Linked DNA regions of Homo sapiens. The protein of the gene in region 1 purifies or fractionates together with the protein of each later gene. This does not show direct contact. Each region holds a gene or a part of one and is shown on either strand. Other genes may lie near its edges. The genes, in order: GIT2, PKN3 and GOLGA5.

What was found.
Region 2: the proteins of GIT2 (region 1) and PKN3 purify together in Homo sapiens (affinity purification with mass spectrometry, with the first as the bait; one large-scale study listed by BioGRID). This does not show direct contact.
Region 3: the proteins of GIT2 (region 1) and GOLGA5 purify together in Homo sapiens (affinity purification with mass spectrometry, with the first as the bait; one large-scale study listed by BioGRID). This does not show direct contact.

The regions. Positions count from the first base shown.
Region 1 is NC_000012.12:109,986,200-109,989,924, reverse strand, and holds part of GIT2 (ARF GTPase-activating protein GIT2), read left to right. Parts: intron 1-122; coding exon 123-235; intron 236-856; coding exon 857-962; intron 963-3,725. UniProt on the Homo sapiens protein: GTPase-activating protein for ADP ribosylation factor family members, including ARF1.
Region 2 is NC_000009.12:128,715,961-128,719,685, reverse strand, and holds part of PKN3 (serine/threonine-protein kinase N3), read right to left. Parts: intron 2,940-3,725; coding exon 2,763-2,939; intron 1,362-2,762; coding exon 1,299-1,361; intron 1,138-1,298; coding exon 1,061-1,137; intron 1-1,060.
Region 3 is NC_000014.9:92,797,305-92,800,804, forward strand, and holds part of GOLGA5 (golgin subfamily A member 5), read left to right. Parts: intron 1-103; 5' UTR 104-133; coding exon 134-677; intron 678-3,500. UniProt on the Homo sapiens protein: Involved in maintaining Golgi structure. Stimulates the formation of Golgi stacks and ribbons. Involved in intra-Golgi retrograde transport.

The DNA.
Region 1 (3,725 bases):
GAATGATATTCCTAACAAATGAGTGTTTATAACAGGACTTTGTTTACTCTGTTCAGTCACTGATCCCCATTGAATATTTGTGAAAAGAAATTAAAGTCTTATGTCATCCTGCTTGGTTTTAGATGGTTGAGACCTTGTATAATAACGGTGCTAACTCTATATGGGAGCATTCTTTGCTGGACCCTGCGTCTATTATGAGTGGAAGACGTAAAGCTAATCCACAGGATAAAGTACAGTGAGTGGAATGTTTATAAATACTTTTATTTCTTCATAACAAATGGGGCCCACTGAAAGGAGTGCAGCTATTTTTGGTCAGTCTCCGCAAGGGCAGCAGAGGAGGGGGTTACCCTAGTTGTGCATCAGGTTCTTTGCTATTAGAAATGCAGAATGGGGTGGGGCAGGACCATCTGTTTAGCATGGCCACCCAGCAGGAGTAAGTGGCTTCCTCAGTTGGAAACCATGGCTTGGAGTCTGTAAATGTAATCAGATTTAAACTTATACTCAAATAAGAGGCGATCAGACCAGAAATCTAGGTCTGGGCACCCGTCTGCCTGTTGCCTCACTTATAAGATGGGACTAAATGCTGCTTTCTCCCAAAGTTGCTAAATCAGTTCAGACAATTACACAGAGAAGAGGGCTACTATAAAAAGCAGGTACTCTGGAGTCCCAGCCATTATAATAACTAATGTATGTTTTCAAACTGCAGGTCTTAAACCTTGCTGAAACTTACTTGAGCATTGTTCATTTTATTCTCAAGTGGGGGATGTGGGTCACTTCCTCTTCTTTTTACAGTACAAAGAATGGGGATTGTTGTATCTGAACGAGTGAACTGTTTTCTTTTTTGTTTTTGAACCAGTCCCAATAAAGCGGAATTCATCAGAGCCAAGTATCAGATGTTAGCGTTCGTCCATCGCTTGCCCTGCCGGGATGACGATAGTGTGACTGCCAAAGATCTTAGCAAGGTGGGTCACACCTTTTAAAATCCCTAAAAGAGCGGGCTGAGACAGCATATTGTTTTATTTGAAAAAACGAAAAAAAAGTCTGGTTGTGGGCTTTTTTTTTTTTTTTTTTTTTTTGAGACAGAGTCTCTGTTACCCAGGCGGGAGTACAGTGGCGCGATCTTGGCTCCCTGCAGCCTCTGCCTCCCGGGTTCCAGCGATTCTCCTGCCTCAGCCTCCTAGGTAGCTGGGATTACAGGCGCATGCCACCATGCCCAGCTAATTTTTGTATTTTTAGTAGAGACGGGGTTTCACCATGTTGGCCAGGCTGGTTTCGAACTCCTGAGCTCAGGTGATCCGTCTGCCTCGGCCTCCTAGTGTTGGGATTGCAAGCGTGAGCCACTGCACCCGGCCAGGGTTTTTTTGTTTTTCGTTTGTTTTTTTTGAGACAGGGTCTTGCTCTGTTGCCCAGGCTGGAGTGCAGTGGTGCAATCACGGTTCACTGCAGCCTTGACCATCCAGGCTCTAGCAATCCTTCCACCTCAGCCTCCCGAGTAGCTGGAACTACAGGCGCATTACCATACCCAGCTAATATTTTTTATTTTTTGTAGAGACGGGTTCTTGCTATGTTGCCCAGGCTGAAAAAAGTTTTTAAAGAAAGAAAAACAAAAACTCATTTCTGCACATTCATTAATTAATAGCTTTTTTGTCAGTCGGTTTCGTCTTTAATCTGAATTCAAATGGCAGCCATTCATATAGTGGAGGTTCAGGGCAAAGAGGAAAAGTAAGTCTCTGGAAGGCTGTTTGTGTTTTTCCAATATGGCTTTTAAATTATATTTTGATAAGTTTTTTGTTTGTTTAACTTTGAAATAGGAACCATCTCAGAGTTGTTTCTAGAAGGGACTAGAAAGATTATAGGACAATTGTTTCTTTTTAATAAGGACTAGAAAAAGTACTAAAGGAAGGGGACTTCTTCAGGTTTCCAGGTTGAACAGTAAGTATGATCTTCAGAAAGCAATGTGTGACTCAAAGCTATAGTACACAGAATGGTTTATGATACTTGTAAAACGAGTGAGGTGGTTTTCTTTATGTGGGCCTTCGCATGTTTTTGAGAGATGCTGTAAGAAATGTGCATATTTTCAAAGCGCTGCCTTGGATAAATGCTTACTCACACAGAGCATGAGAACTTACTTATTCAGAACTTTTTTTATTACTTTTTGGCCGGGTGCGATGGCTCACTCCTGTAATCCCAGCACTTTGGGAGACTGAGACTGGCAGATCACTTGGGCTCAGAAGTTCAAGACCAGCCTGGGCAACATGGCGAAACCCCGTCTCTACAAAGAATATAACAATTTTAGCCGGGTATGGTGGCCGTGCCTGTAGTACCAGCTACCTGGGAGGCTGAGGTTGGAGGATGACTTGAGCCCAGGAGGTGGAGGTTGCAGTGAGCTGAGATTACACCATGGCACTCCAGCTTGGACAACAGAGCAAGACCCTGTCTCAAAAAAAGAAAACATTTTCTGCATCTATTGAGATGATCATGTGGTTTTTGCTTTTGCTTCTATTTATTTATTTATTTATTTATTTATTTTTATTTATTTTTGAGATAGAGTCTTGCTCAGTCGCCCAAGCTGGAGTGCAGTGGTGCGATCTCAGCTCACTGCAAGTTCTGCCTCCCAGGTTCATGCCATTCTCCTGCCTCAGCCTCCCAAGTAGCTGGGACTACAGGTGCCCACCACCACACCCGGCTAATTTTTTTTGTATTTTTAGTAGAGACAGGGTTTCACCATGTTAGCCAGGATGGTCTCGATCTCCTGACCTCGTGATCCTCCCGCCTCGGCCTCCCAAAGTACTGGGATTACAGGCAGGAGCCACCGCGCCTGGCCTGCTTTTACTTCTATTGATGTGGCAAATTACATTTATTGATTTGTGTATGTTGAGCCAGCCTTGAATCTCAGCAAAAAAGCCTACTTGATCATGATGGGTTAATTTTTTTATTTTTATTTTTATTTTTTATTTTTTATTTTTTTGAGACAGAGTCTCGCTCTGTAGTCCAGGCTGTAGTGCAATGGCATGATCTTGGCTCACTACAACCTCCGCCTCCCAGGTTCAAGTGATTCTCCTGCCTCAGCCTCCCAAGTAGCTGGGATTACAGGCACGTGCCACCAGGCCCAGCTAATCTTTTGGTTTTTTTTTGTTTGTTTGTTTGTTTGTTTGTTTTTGAGACGGAGTCTTGCTCTGTGGCCCAGGCTGGAGTGCAGTGGCGCAATCTTGGCTCACTTCAAGCTCCGCCTCCCGGGTTCATGCCATTCTCCTGCCTCAGCCTCCTGAGTAGCTGGGACTACAGGCGTCCGCCACCACACCCGGCTAATTTTTTTGTATTTTTAGTAGAGACGAGGTTTTACTGTGTTAACCAGGATGGTCCCGATTTCCTGACCTCGTGATCCGCCCACCTCGGCCTCCCAAAGTGCTGGGATTACAGGCGTAAGCCACCACGCCCGGCCATTTTTTGTATCTTTAGTAGAGACGGGGTTTCACCACGTTGGCCAGGCTGGTCTCGAACTCCTAACCTCATGATCCGCCTGTTTCAGCTTCCCAAAGTGCCGGGACTACAGGCCTGAGCCACTGCGCCCAGCCATGGTGGATTAACTTTTGATGTGCTACTGGATTTGGTTTGCTAATATTTTGTTAAGAGTTTTTTAAAAAATCTGTGTTCATCATGGATTTTGGCCTGAAGTTTTCCTTTTTTGTTGTGTCTTTGCCAGATTTTGGTATCAGGCTGATGTT
Region 2 (3,725 bases), on another chromosome or scaffold:
CTGCAAACCAACAGGCACACCAATAGCTGCTTGGTGTGGCCTATTCACAATAACTTCAATAGCCAAGCCTTATGATGCCAGGGAGCTGAGCCTGTGCCAAGCCCTGCCCTGTACCCAAGGAAGTGGGAATGGTTATGACGCCATTTGACTGCATGCAGAGCCAAGCTCACAGGCTAAGGTCACAGAAGGCAGAACTCGGCTGGGTGCGGTGGCTCACACCTGTAATCCCAGCACTTTGGGAGGCCGAGGTGGGCAGATCATGAGGTCAGGAGTTCGAGACCAGCCTGGCCAACATGGTGAAACCCCGTCTCTACTAAAAATACAAAAAATAAGCTGGGTGTGGTGGCATGTGCCTGTAATCGCAGGTACTCGGGAGGCTGAGGCAGGAGAATCTCTTGAACCTTGGAGGCAGAGGTTGCAGTGAGCCGAGATTGCGCCATTGCACTCCAGCCTGGGCAACAGGGCAAGACTCCATCTCAAAAAAAAAAGAAGCCGGGCGCAGTGGCTCACGCCTGTAATCCCAGCACTTTGGGCGGCCAAGGTGGGTGGATCATGAGGTCAGGAGATCGAGACCATCCTCGCTAACACAGTGAAACCCCGTCTCTACTAAAAAAATACAAAAATTAGCCAGGTGTGGTGGTGCTCGCTTGTAGTCCCAGCTACTTGGGCTGCTGAGGCAAGAGAATCGCTTGAACCCAGTAGGTGGAGGCTGCAGTGAGCCGAGACTGCACCACTGCATTGCATCCTGGGCGGCACAGCAAGACTCCGTCTCAAAAAAAAAAACAAACCAAAAAAAAAACAGAAGGCAGAACTCAGTCTCCTCTCCCATCCCTGACCACAGGCTCTCCCTTGGGCCAGGTGCAGGCTGGGGCTACGAGCCTCTAGGACTAGGAAGAAAGGGCCAGTGTGCCCAGCTGTCCCCTGGAATGAGGTCTGGGGTGGTGGAACCAGGGCATCCGCAGGTGAGGAGATTTCCTGGGACATGCCATGTGCCCATCATCCTATTGGCCAGGGTGGGTAAACAAGGCTGGAGATATGGATCCCAATGGGCGGCCCCCACCTTCCTTGCAGAGTCCAAAGTCTGCGATCTTCAGGAATCCCTGGGCATCCAGCAGAAGGTTATCCAACTTCAGGTCCCTGAGGGCAAGGGTGCAGATCAAAGGGACTGAGTGGGGCTTAGACCCAGGGAACAGTAACGGCCCCTGGAGCAGCCCAGGCAGGCGGAGGCAGCATCTGTCCTTACCCACTCCACCCCCACCCCCACCCCTACCCCCGTGCATCCCTGGGACAAAAGTCACCTGTAAATGATCTTCTTCTCGTGTAAGAACTGCAGCCCCAGGACAACACAAGCCACGTAGAAGCTGCAGGGGTGGTTATGGGAGAACTCAGGCCCAAGACACACACCAGGGAGGCAGGGCAGGGAGGCACCAGGATGGCCATAGCGGGGGGATCCCGGATGTCCCGGCCAGAGTCAGAGATGAGTGAGACTGGGACAAGCATCATGCTGAGGGTGGGGGTGCTCCAATAGTCCCAAGGTCGCCCCAAGGTTGCGTGCATTTCCAGCTCACCCTTCATGGGCCCTTAAATGGTGCCAGGGACCAAGTGTTGGTCCCTGCAGTGGATATTCATCATGCCTATTTTTTTTTTTTTTGAGACGGAGTCTCACTCTGTCACCCAGGCTGCAGTGCAGCGGTGCGATCTCGGCTCACTGCAACCTCCACCTCCTGGGTTCAAGCAATTCTCCTGCCTCAGCCTCCCAAGTAGCTGAGACTACAGGCACGCGCCACCACGCCCAGCTAATTTTTTTTTTTTTTTTTTTTTTTTAGTTTTTATAGAGATAGGGTTTCACCATGTTGGCCAGGATGGTCTTGATCTCTTGACCTCATGATCCACACGCCTCAGCCTCCCAAAGTGTGGGGATTACAGGCATGAACCAACGTGCCCGGCCTTTTTTTTTTTTTTTTTAGATGGAGTCTCACTCTGTCGCCAGACCGAAGTGGCGGGATCTCGGCTCACTCCAACCTCCGCCTCCTGGGTTCAAGCGATTCTCCTGCCTTAGCCTCTCAAGTAGCTAGGATTACAGGCGTGTGCCACCATGCCTAGCTAATTTTTGTATTTTTAGTAGAGACAAGATTTTACCATGTTGGCCAGGTCACGAACTCCTGACCTCAGGTGATCCACCCGCCTCAGCCTCCAAAGTGCTGGGATTACAGGTGCCCGGCCAATCATGCCTATTTTTCAAATAAAGATCTGAGACTCACCAGGTGTGGTGGCTCACGCCTGTAATCTCAGCACTTTGGAAGGCCGAGGTGGGCGGATCACTTGAGGTCAGGAGTTAGAGACCAACCTGACCAACATGGAGAAACCTCGTCTCTACTAAAAATACAAAATTAGACAGGAGTGGTGGTGCATGCCTGTAATCCCAGCTACTCAGGAGGCTGAGGCAGGAGAATGGCTTGAACCAGGGAGGCGGAGGTTGTGGTGAGCCGAGATCATGCCATTGCACTCCAGCCTGGGCAATAAGAGCCAGACTCTGTCTCACAAAAAAAAAAAAAAAAAAAAAAAAAAGAAACCTAATGCACAGCTTCATAAGCTGATACCCAGGATCACAAATGCTGTCAGTTGGTGCCAGGATGTAAACCAAGGCCTCTGACTCCTGCTCCCCTGCTGTTGGGCACTTGGAGAAAGCAGTATGTAGAGAGTGGGTGTAGGGAACCAGGCAAAGTTTGCTGGAAGAGGCAGGCAGGAGGGATGGAACCCACCGGGCCTGGGGCTCGGGGAAGACATCCTCGTGGATCTGCATCATGAGGTCACCACCAGGCACAAACTCAGTCACAAAGCAGGCATGGCTGGAGGTCTGGAAGCAGGCAAGGAGGGAGAGCAGGAAAGGGTGCCCTGTGCAGCCCACAGCCTCCAGGATCCGCTTCTCGCAGTACAGGCTACAGGAGAGAGCAAGAGTATTAGAGGGAAGGAAAACTTTCCCTGGGCTGTGCCCTGTGCCCTGCACAACACCCCTGGCTCACTGGGCCCTCAGCCAAAGTGCCAGGCAAGTAGACTGATGGTTTCTTTTCATTTTTTTTTTTTTTTTGAGACACAGTCTTGCTCTGTCGCCTGGGCTGGAGTGCTGTGGTGTGATCTCAGCTCATTGCAACCTCTGCCTCCCGGGTTCAAGAGATTTTTGTGCCTCAGCCTCCCGAGTAGCTGGGATTATAGGAGTGCGCCACCACGCCCAGCTAATTTTTGTATTTTTAGTAGACGCAGGGTTTCGCTGTGTTGCCCAGGCTGGTCTCGAACTCTTGGCCTCAAGTTATCCACCTGCTTCGGCCTTCCAGAATGCTGGGATTACAAGTGTGAGCCAGTGCGCCCAGCCTTTTTTTTTTTTTTTTTTGAGACAGGGTCTCACTTTCTTGCCCAGGCTGGAGTGATGTGGTGCGATCTCGGCTCACTGCAGCCTCCGCCACTGAGGTTCAAGTGATCCTCCCACCACAGCTTCACGAGTAGCTGGGTGTGCACCACCACGCCCAGCTAATTTTTGTATTTTTTGTAGAGGCGGGTTTCACCATGTTGTCCAGGCTGGCCTCGAACTCCTGGGCTCAAGCAATCCTCCCACCTTGGCCTCCTGAAGTGCTGGGATTACAGGCATGAGCCACTGTGCCCAGCCTCCCCCTCCTTTTTTTTTTTTTAATTAGTTTTTTTAGATGAGGTCTCATTCTGTTGCCCAGGCT
Region 3 (3,500 bases), on another chromosome or scaffold:
GTTAGGATTTCAACCCAGGATTGCCTGACTCCAGAGTCTGGTCTTAACCATTTATCATACTCTGCCACTATGCCACACTGATCATTTTATGTCCTTTTTACAGGTTTGCCAATAGGATTATCCTGCTGCCATCATGTCTTGGTTTGTTGATCTTGCTGGAAAGGCAGAAGATCTTTTAAACCGAGTTGATCAAGGGGCTGCAACAGCTCTCAGTAGGAAAGACAATGCCAGCAACATATATAGCAAAAATACTGACTATACTGAACTTCACCAGCAAAATACAGATTTGATATATCAGACTGGACCTAAATCTACGTATATTTCATCAGCAGCTGATAACATTCGAAATCAAAAAGCCACCATCTTAGCTGGCACTGCAAATGTGAAAGTAGGATCTCGGACACCAGTAGAGGCCTCTCATCCTGTTGAAAATGCATCTGTTCCTAGGCCTTCATCCCATTTTGTGCGAAGAAAAAAGTCAGAACCTGATGATGAGCTGCTGTTTGATTTTCTTAATAGTTCACAGAAGGAGCCTACCGGGAGGGTGGAAATCAGAAAGGAAAAAGGCAAGACACCTGTCTTTCAGAGCTCTCAGACATCAAGTGTCAGTTCTGTGAACCCCAGTGTAACCACCATCAAAACCATTGAAGAAAATTCTTTTGGGAGCCAAACCCACGGTAGTTAATCAGTCCTCTTATTTCTTTTAGAGTTAAGCAAATTGAATGTGTCATCATATGATCCGATGGTGTTTCTCATCTACTGTTATGGAATCTGTCTCCACTGGTGTAAGGGCAGACTCTCTGCAAATGTGTGGTGTAAACAAGGGAGACATCATTGACTACTATTAGTCAATAGACAGTTGTAGCAGGGACTTCATGTTGTCTGGAGGGCAACTTCACCCACTCAGCATCTAACAAAGTATTTCAAATTTGTTTCTCTAAGACATTTTAAGATTAAAAAAAGAAAATTTTGAAATCTGAAAGAAAACATGTCAGTTTGGATCGGGGACTATCCCAGTTGATATCTTTTTGTTACTAGGATTATAAAAATGACAGGAGGCTGTACTTCACGTATTTTCTGGGTTGTGTTTTTTGTGTGTTTTTCCCCCCACATCCTCCACAAATAAAGCTGAGAGACTGAACTTTGATCCAAGTTGAAGAGTTGAAGGCATTGACCTAGTAGTGAAGCAAGAGCTTAGAACTCTTGTTTTCAATTGTTTAATTCCCTCTGAGATTACCTCTACAAGTACACCTTCTTTCTTGTGAAATGAGATTAACGTGGTAAATGTGGCTAATTCAAGTACCTACTAACTGTTTTAAAATAGCTATAGGCTGGGCGTGGTGGCTTACACCTGTAATCCGAGCACTTTGGAACGCTGAGGCAGGCAGAGCACTCGTGCCCAGGAGTTTGAGACCAGCCTAAACAACATAGCAAAACTTTGTCTCTACAAAAAATACAAAAATTAGCCAGGCACAGTGGTGCATGCCTGTAGTCTCAGCTACTTGGGAGGCTGAGGCGGGAGAATTGATTGAGCTCAGGAGGTCGAGGTTGCAGTGAGCCGAGATTGTACCACTACACTCCAGCCTGGGCCGTAGAATGAGACGCTGTCTCCAAAGATAAAAATAGAAAAAAGGCAAAAAACTTGATAGTAGGTTCTTGCAGGGATTCTTTTGTTGTTTTGAGACAGGGTCTTGCTCTATCGCCGAGGCTTAAGTGCCGTGATGCTATCACAGCTCGCACTACCTTTGACCTCCCCAGGCTCAAGCGATCCTCCTGCCTCAGCCTCCTGAGTAGCTGGAACTATAGGTGCACACCACTGTGCCCAGCTAATTTTAAAAAATTATTTTTAATAGAAACAGTGTCTCACTGTGTTGCTCTGGCTGGTCTTGAGCTCAAGTGATCCTCCTACTTTGACCTCCCACAGCATTGGGATTATGGGCATGATCTACCGTGGCCTGGCCATAGGGATTTTTTTTTTTTTTTCTTTTTTGAGACGGAGTCTCACTCTGTCACCCAGGCTGGAGTGCAGTGGCCTGATCTTGGCTCACTGCAAGCTCCACCTCCTGGGTTCATGCCATTCTCCTGCCTCAGCCTCCCAAGTAGCTGGGACTACAGGCGCCTGCCATCACGCCTGGCTAATTTTTTTTTTTTTTTTGTATTTTTAGTAGAGACAGGGTTTCACTGTTAGCCAGGAGGCTCTTGATCTCCTGACCTTGTGATCCGCCCGCCTCGGCCTCCCAAAGTGCTGGGATTACAGGCGTGAGCCACTGTGCCTGGCCTTTTTTAATGTTTTTATTTATTTATTTATTTATTTTTTTGTGAGACGGAGTCTCGCTTTGTCGCCCAGGCTGGAGTGCAGTGACGCGATCTTAGCTCACTGCAACCTCCACCTCCTGGGTTCAAGCGATTCTCCATTTCAGCCTCCCGAGTAGCTGGGACTATAGGTGTGCACCACCACCCTTGGCTAATTTTTGTATTTTTTGGTAGAGATAGGGTTTCATCACGTTGGCCAGGCTGGTCTTGAACTCCGGACCTCAAGTCATCTGCCCACCTTGGCCTCCCAAAGTGCTGAGATTACAGGCGTGAGCCACCACACCTGGCCAGGGATTCTTTATAGAGTTGATTATTGATGGGAGATTGTCATGTTCTTGGATGTTATAGCTTCTTTCATTGTCTTGGCTGTTAGTGAATAAAATCTTTCTTGTATTTTCAAGACAAAAACTTGTATAGAAGAAGACGTTTTGGGTTGTGAAAATAGGATCAGGCAGTAGCAGTTGATTAATATGTTCACATATTCCAAAATTTCTTCTCAGCTATCTTTCAATTAATTACACAAAGAACCTACTAGGTGCAAGGATATGGAAGTGTCCAGTGGGTGAGCTAGACATGTAAACAGATAATTTACTTGTGGTCTAGTAAATGTAGCAATTAAGTATGGTCAGAGTGTTGTGGAAGTATGAAGGAGGAAGTAACTAATTGCCTAGGGTATTCAGAAAGGATTCACAGAGGGTCTGTATTTTTAGCTGGGTCTTAAAGAATGAACAGGAGTTTGCCAGGTAAAAAGTTAGAGACAGCATTCCATGCAGAGAGAACAGACTCTAAGAGGCTAGTAGAGTAGAAAACATTGTAACAAAGTTGGAAACACTGAGTGAGTTGGAGGGTGATGAAGAAAATGTAGCTAGCAAACAAAGTTGGGACCTGTTTGTGAAGGCCCTTGTGTCATACTGTTTATGCAATTAAACCCATTACTTCTATAATCATTGTTAAAGATTGATTCCTGAACAACAGGCTTTAGAATCGCTTGTGTGTTGTTAATTTAAAAATGAATTATTGAGTGCCTTCCCAGGCTTCCTGAATCGTTATTTTCTGGGGATGGAGCCAGGGCATCTGATTTTGTTGTTGTTGTTCTGTGGGTGGTTCTTAGCCAATAAAAGTTGAAAGTGGCTGCCATAGCCAGTGTGATGCTAGTAGAGATCTTTAAGTCAAGAGTTGACATAGCT